Regions from separate parts of the Homo sapiens genome. Here region 1 is linked to region 2. The links come from fine-mapping of genetic effects on gene expression. Tissue or cell type: whole blood. Region 2 holds a variant in brackets; the other region holds the start of a gene. All regions are shown on one strand. Distances are between the middles of the regions. Region 1 holds the start of MDS2 (myelodysplastic syndrome 2 translocation associated). Region 2 has its middle 15 kb from the start of MDS2.

Region 1 (2,917 bases), 15 kb after region 2:
GGTGGCTCACACCTGTAATCCCAGCACTTTGGGAGGTCGAGACAGGCGGATCACGAGGTCAGGAGATCGAGACCATCCTGGCTAACACGGTGAAATCCCGTCTCTGTTAAAAATAAAAATAAAAAAAATTAGCCAGGCGTGGTGGTGGGCGCCTGTAGTCCCAGCTACTCGGGAGGCTGAGGCAGGAGAATGGTGTGAACCCAGGAGGCGGAGCTTGGAGCGAGCTGCCCTCCAGCCTGGGCAACAGAGCGAGACTCCGTCTAAAAAAAAAAAATTGGCCGGGCGCGGTGGCTCACGCCTGTAATCCAGCACTTTGGGAGGCCGAGGTGGGCGGATCACGAGGTCAGGAGATCGAGACCATCCTGGCTAACACGGTGAAACCCCGTCTCTACTAAAAATACAAAAAATTAGCCGGGCGAGGTGGCGGGCGCCTGTATTCCCAGCTACGCGGGAGGCTGAGGCAAGAGAATGTCGTGAACCCGGGAGGCGGAGCTTGCAGTGAGAGGAGATGGCGCCACGGCACTCCAGCCTGGGCGACAGCAAGACTCCGTCTCAAAAAAAAAAAAAAAAAAAAAGAAAGAAAGCAGGGAACGTCACTGAGAGGCTCTTACACAACTCCAGGCAAGAAACAGTGGTGCCTCGGACACAGGTAGTAACGGTGGAGACGGTGAGATTGCGGAAGCTTTGGAAGGTGGAGCTCATGCTATTCCTGATGGGTCAGTTTGGGGTGTAGAGATGGGACAGTTGAGTTTGTCAGCGGGAGGTCATCGATGACCTTGACAAGAGCAGTTTCAGTGGAGCGATGGGGGTGAAAGCCCCACAGAGAGAGCTGGAGAGAGAAAAGGAAGGAGGGATGAAGATGGTCAATTCAGAAAACACTGAGATGTTTTCCTGGAAGGGGGAGCAAAGAAATATGACGGTGTGGGTGTGGGGGTGTGTGTGCATGGGCTTGTGCATGTGTGTGTGTGTGTGTACAATTGGAAGAACTGCAGCCGATTGTGTGGTGATGTGAATGAGCCAGCAGAAGAGGGGGACCCCTGGAGCTGTGGGAGAGACGCAAGGAATTGCTCACTGTTGTCCTGGAGGAGGTGAGAGAGGATGAAGGGCAGTGTCCCAGTGGAGGGCGTAGAATTCAAGTTCCACAAGGCGTCCAGGTAACAGGCACGGATACAGGCGGGAGTGAAGGGAGAGGTGGAGTCTGAGGAAGTTTCCTTCTGATTGCTTCTGTTTCCCAGTGAAACAGAAAGCAAGGTCTCCAGCAGCTGACAGCTAGTACAGCAGGTTCTTTTTTTCTCAGGTGTTATAGATAGCTGCGCCTTCCGCTCACCACAGGTGAAATGGTTGGCTTGTATCTGGGGCCACACCACATAAAAACCATTTGAACAGCAGGATCACACTCAGCATGATGAGAGCCCACATGAGGCTGGAAGTGCAGGAACTTGGACCGGCGGGGGGAACCTGGCAGGTCACATTCCCTCTCAAGGGGTGAGTGCTCACCAAGTGGAATTGGAGTGTGACTCTGTAGCAGTGATTCATGCACAACGTGCTCTCTCTCTCTCTCCCCTCCCTTTACACGCGTGTTTAAATGTGTGTAAATTAGGCTGGGTGCAGTGGCTCACGCCCGTAATCCCAGCACTTTGGGAGGCCAAGGTGGGCAGATCACTTGAGGCCGGGAGTTCGAGACCAGCCTGGGCAACCTGGTGAAACACCGTCTCTGTGAAAAATACAAAAATTAGCCGGGCGTGGTGGTGCACATCTATAACCGCAGCTACTTGGGAGGCTGAGGCATGAGAATCACTTGAGCCCAGGAGGTGGAGGTTGCAGTGAGCCGAGATCACGCCATTGCACCCCAGCCTGGGTGACAGAGCAAGACCCTGTCTCAAAGAGAAAAAAAAAATGTGTGTAAGTTAAATGCACCATGATGAAGACTCCACTATAAATGGTGCCGCTGGAACCTCGGGCCTCCTGACTCCACATCAGTTTTGTCTCTACTATAATACTCCATCTCTCATCACACATCACTAGGGAGCACCAAAATTGCAGGGAAGAGGGTAACCCAGGCTGAAAGGAGGAAGAGAGCACTTAAACTAGAAAATTCTAGAACATCAGACCTCGATGGACCTTCACAGATCATTTGGTCCAACACCCTTATTTGACAGACATGGAAAATGTCATTCACTGACTCCCCCAATATCACACAACAGAATCCTCATCATCCCCATCATCATCCCCATCATCATCATCCCCATCATCATCATCACCATCACCATCATCCCCATCATCATCATCCCCATCACCATCATCCCCATCACCATCATCCCCACCATCATCATCCCCATCATCACCATCATCCCCATCATCATCATCCCCATCACCATCATCCCCATCACCATCATCCCCACCATCATCATCCCCATCATCATCATCACCATCATCATCATCCCCATCATCATCACCATCACCACCATCATCATCATCCCCAACATCACCATCATCATCATCCCCATCATCATCACCATCACCATCACCATCATCATCATCCCCATCACCATCATCACCATCACCATCAACATCACCATCATCACCATCACCATCATCCCCATCATCACCATCATCATCACCATCACCATCATCCCTATCATTATCATCCTCCTCCTGATCACCATAATTGTCATCTGCATGGAAGCTAGCCTATATTGATTACTCCCTGCTGCCAAGCTGTGTCCCATTTCATCATCAAAGCCTCTTGAGGTGGCCACTCTCATTATTTTCATTTTACAGGTGGTGAAACATCACAGAGCAGGTAAGGTATAAACTGGGAGACCCTCCTCCCACCCACTCTGTGAAAACCTTTACTAGAGATCTCGCATTGGGCCACTAACCCTAAGATAGGAGGCAGAAGGGGGCTCCCCTTGAA
Region 2 (2,917 bases):
AATACAGGGGGGCCAAAGTAAGTGCTCAGTGAGCAGCACCTTCATTATTTCTTTTTATTTTTTTATTTTTATTTTTATTTTTTTGAGATGGAGTCTCACTCTGTTGCCCAGGCTAGAGTGCAGTGGCATGATCTCGGCTCACTGCAACCTCCGCCTCCCCGGTTCAAGTAATTCTCATGTCTCAGACTCCTGAGTAGCTGGGACTACAGGTACGTGCCACCACGCCCAGCTAATTTTTTGTGTTTTTTGTAGAGACGGGGTTCCACCATGTTGCCCAGGCTGATCTCGAACTCCTGACCTCAGGTGATCTGCCAGCCTTGGCCTCCCAAAGTGCTGGGATTACAGGCATAAGCCACCACGCCCGGCCTTTTTTTTTTTTTTTTGAGATAGTCTTGCTCTGTCACCCACACTGGAGTGCAGTGGCATGATCTCTGCTCACTGCAACCTCAGCTTCCCAGGTTCAAGACATTCTCTTGCCTCAGCCTCCTAAGTAGCTGGAAACAGGCACCTGCCATGACATCAGGCTAATTTCTGTGTTTTTAATAGAGATGAGGTTTCACCATGTTGGCCAGGCTGGTCTTGAACTCCTGACCTCAAGTGATCCACCTGCCTCGGCCTCTCAAAGTGCTGGGATTACAGGCATGAGCCACCGTGCCTGGCCATCTTATCATTATTTATTTATTTATTAGACAGAGTTTTGCTCATTGCACAGGCTGGAGTGCAATGGCATGATCTCGGCTCACTGCAACCTCTGCCTCGCAGGTTCAAGTGATTCTCCTGCATCAGCCTCCCAAGTAGCTGGGATTACAGGCATGTGCCACCATGCCTGGCTAATTTTTGTATTTTTAGTAGAGATAGGGCTTCACCATGTTGGCCAGGCTGGTCTTGAACTCCTGACCTCAAGTGATCCACCTGCCTTAGCCTCCCAAAGTCCTGGGATTACAGGCATGGCCATCACGCCCAGCCATCCTATCATTATTTCTATACTCTGCAGTCACTCTCAATTGATGTCTAAATGTCATTCACTTGTCAATCAATTACTCACTACCCACCATGTGTCAGGTACACAGCATTGGTTCTCCTGATGTGAAGATGTACTGATAATTCATC[TA/A]TTCAGCCCACATTTTGTGAGCAGCTCCTATCTGCCAGGCTAGGTTCTGAGGCTAGGCTCGTTCTGGGGATCCAAAGATGAGTGACACCACTTGTCCTCCTGGGGCTTGCAATCTTGTAGGGTACGGTGGGTGAAAGCGTGTCTCCCAAAAATGCATGTCCACCTAGAACTTCAGAATATGACCTTACTTGAAAACAGGGTTGGCCGGACGTGGTGGCTCACGCCTGTAATCCCAGCACTTTGGGAGGCCGAGGTGGGTGGATCACGAGGTCAGGAGATCGAGACCATCCTGGCCAACACGGTGAAACCCCGTCTCTACTAAAAATACAAAAAAATTAGCCAGGCGTGGTGGCGGGCGCCTGTAGTCCCAGCTACTTGGGAGGCTGAGGCAGGAGAATGGCCTGAACCCGGGAGGCAGAGCTTGCAGTGAGCCGAGATAGTGCCACTGCACTCCAGCCTGGGCGACAGAGTGAGACTCCATCTCAAAAAAAAAAAAAAGAAAAGAAAAAAAAAGAAAAAGAAAACAGGGTCTTTGCAGGTGTAATTAAGATAAGTATCAAAATAAAATCATGCTGGATTAGGGTGGGCCTGAAATCCAATGAGAGTGTCTTGATAAGAGACAGAAGAGTGCACAGAGACACAGACGAAAAGGCCTTGTGAAGACAGAAGCAGAGACTGGAGGGCAGGGGCACTCCACAAAATGCCAAGGATTTTGCCAGCAGCCACCAAAAGTTAGGAGAAAGGCATGGAATGGATCTTCCCTTAGACCCTCCATCACCCAGGCTGGAGTACAGTGGCGTGATCTCAGCGCATTGCAACCTCCACCTCCCGGACTCAAGCAATCCTCCTGCCTCAGCCCCCCAAGTAGTTGGGACTACAGGCTGGCTATTTTTTGTATTTTTTCGTAGAGATGGTGTTTCACCATGTTGCCCAGGCTGGTCTCAAACTCCTGGGCTCAAGCAATCCTCCCACCTCAGCCTCCCAAAGTGCTGGGATTATAGGTATAAGCCACCGCGCCCAGCCCACCTTGATTTCAGACTTCTGGAAGAACCATGAGAATAAGTTTCTGTTGCTTTCAGCTACCAAGGCTGTAGTAATTTGTTACAGCAGCCCTAAGAAAATAATCCATAGAGGACACACATGACACCCACATTGATAACTAAATGAATAATTATATGATAGCTACCTCCAGGGAGAGGTAGCGATGAGGAGGCGTCACAAGGAGGCTTCTGGGGAGCTGGTTATGTTCACTTCTTGACCTAGAGGCAGGTTATGCAGATGGGTTCATTTTGTGAAGGTATATTGAGCTGTACACAGGATTTGTGTGTTTTTGTGTTTGTTATACTTCAGGAAAAACTTAAAAAGATAAATTGCACAGGCCAGGTGCGGTGGCTCATGCCTGTAATCCCAGGACTTTGGGAGGCCAAGGCAGCTGGATCACTTGAGGTTAGGAGTTTGAGAGCAACCTGGCCAACATGGTGAAACCCCGTCTCTAATAAAAATACAAAAATTAGCCAGGCGTGGTGGTACACACCTATAATCCCAGCTACTCAGAGGCTGAGACAGGAGAATTGCTTGAACTCAGGAGGCGAAAGTTGCAGTGAGCCGAGATCATGCCACTGCACTCCAGCCTGGGTGACTGAGTGAGACTCCATCCCCCAAAAATAATAAAACAAAATAAAATTTAAAAAGATAAATTGCATAGGTAGATGTATAACTATAGATTGTGTTAAGTGCTTTGAAACAAAACTCATGGGTTATAGGAGACAGTATTTTTTAGTCAGCTAGGACTGCTATAACAAAATA

What was found. PIP is the estimated chance that this variant, and not a neighbour inherited with it, causes the effect.
Region 1: it holds the start of MDS2, and the variant in region 2 is the best candidate, but not a certain one, in a credible set for the expression of MDS2 in whole blood (TOPMed, PIP 0.67).

Annotation. Positions count from the first base shown.
Region 1 is chr1:23,625,693-23,628,609 of GRCh38, reverse strand. It overlaps MDS2 (myelodysplastic syndrome 2 translocation associated), which reads right to left and starts at 1,276. Exons shown (of 6, transcript NR_167910.1): 1 at 1,073-1,276; 2 at 612-829; 3 at 13-103. RefSeq lists an enhancer at 2,703-2,822.
Region 2 is chr1:23,640,581-23,643,497 of GRCh38, reverse strand. No RefSeq gene overlaps it. Among named protein-coding and RNA genes, the nearest start is that of MDS2, 15 kb to the right of the region's middle. The variant TA/A (reference allele first, on the strand shown) is at 1,111.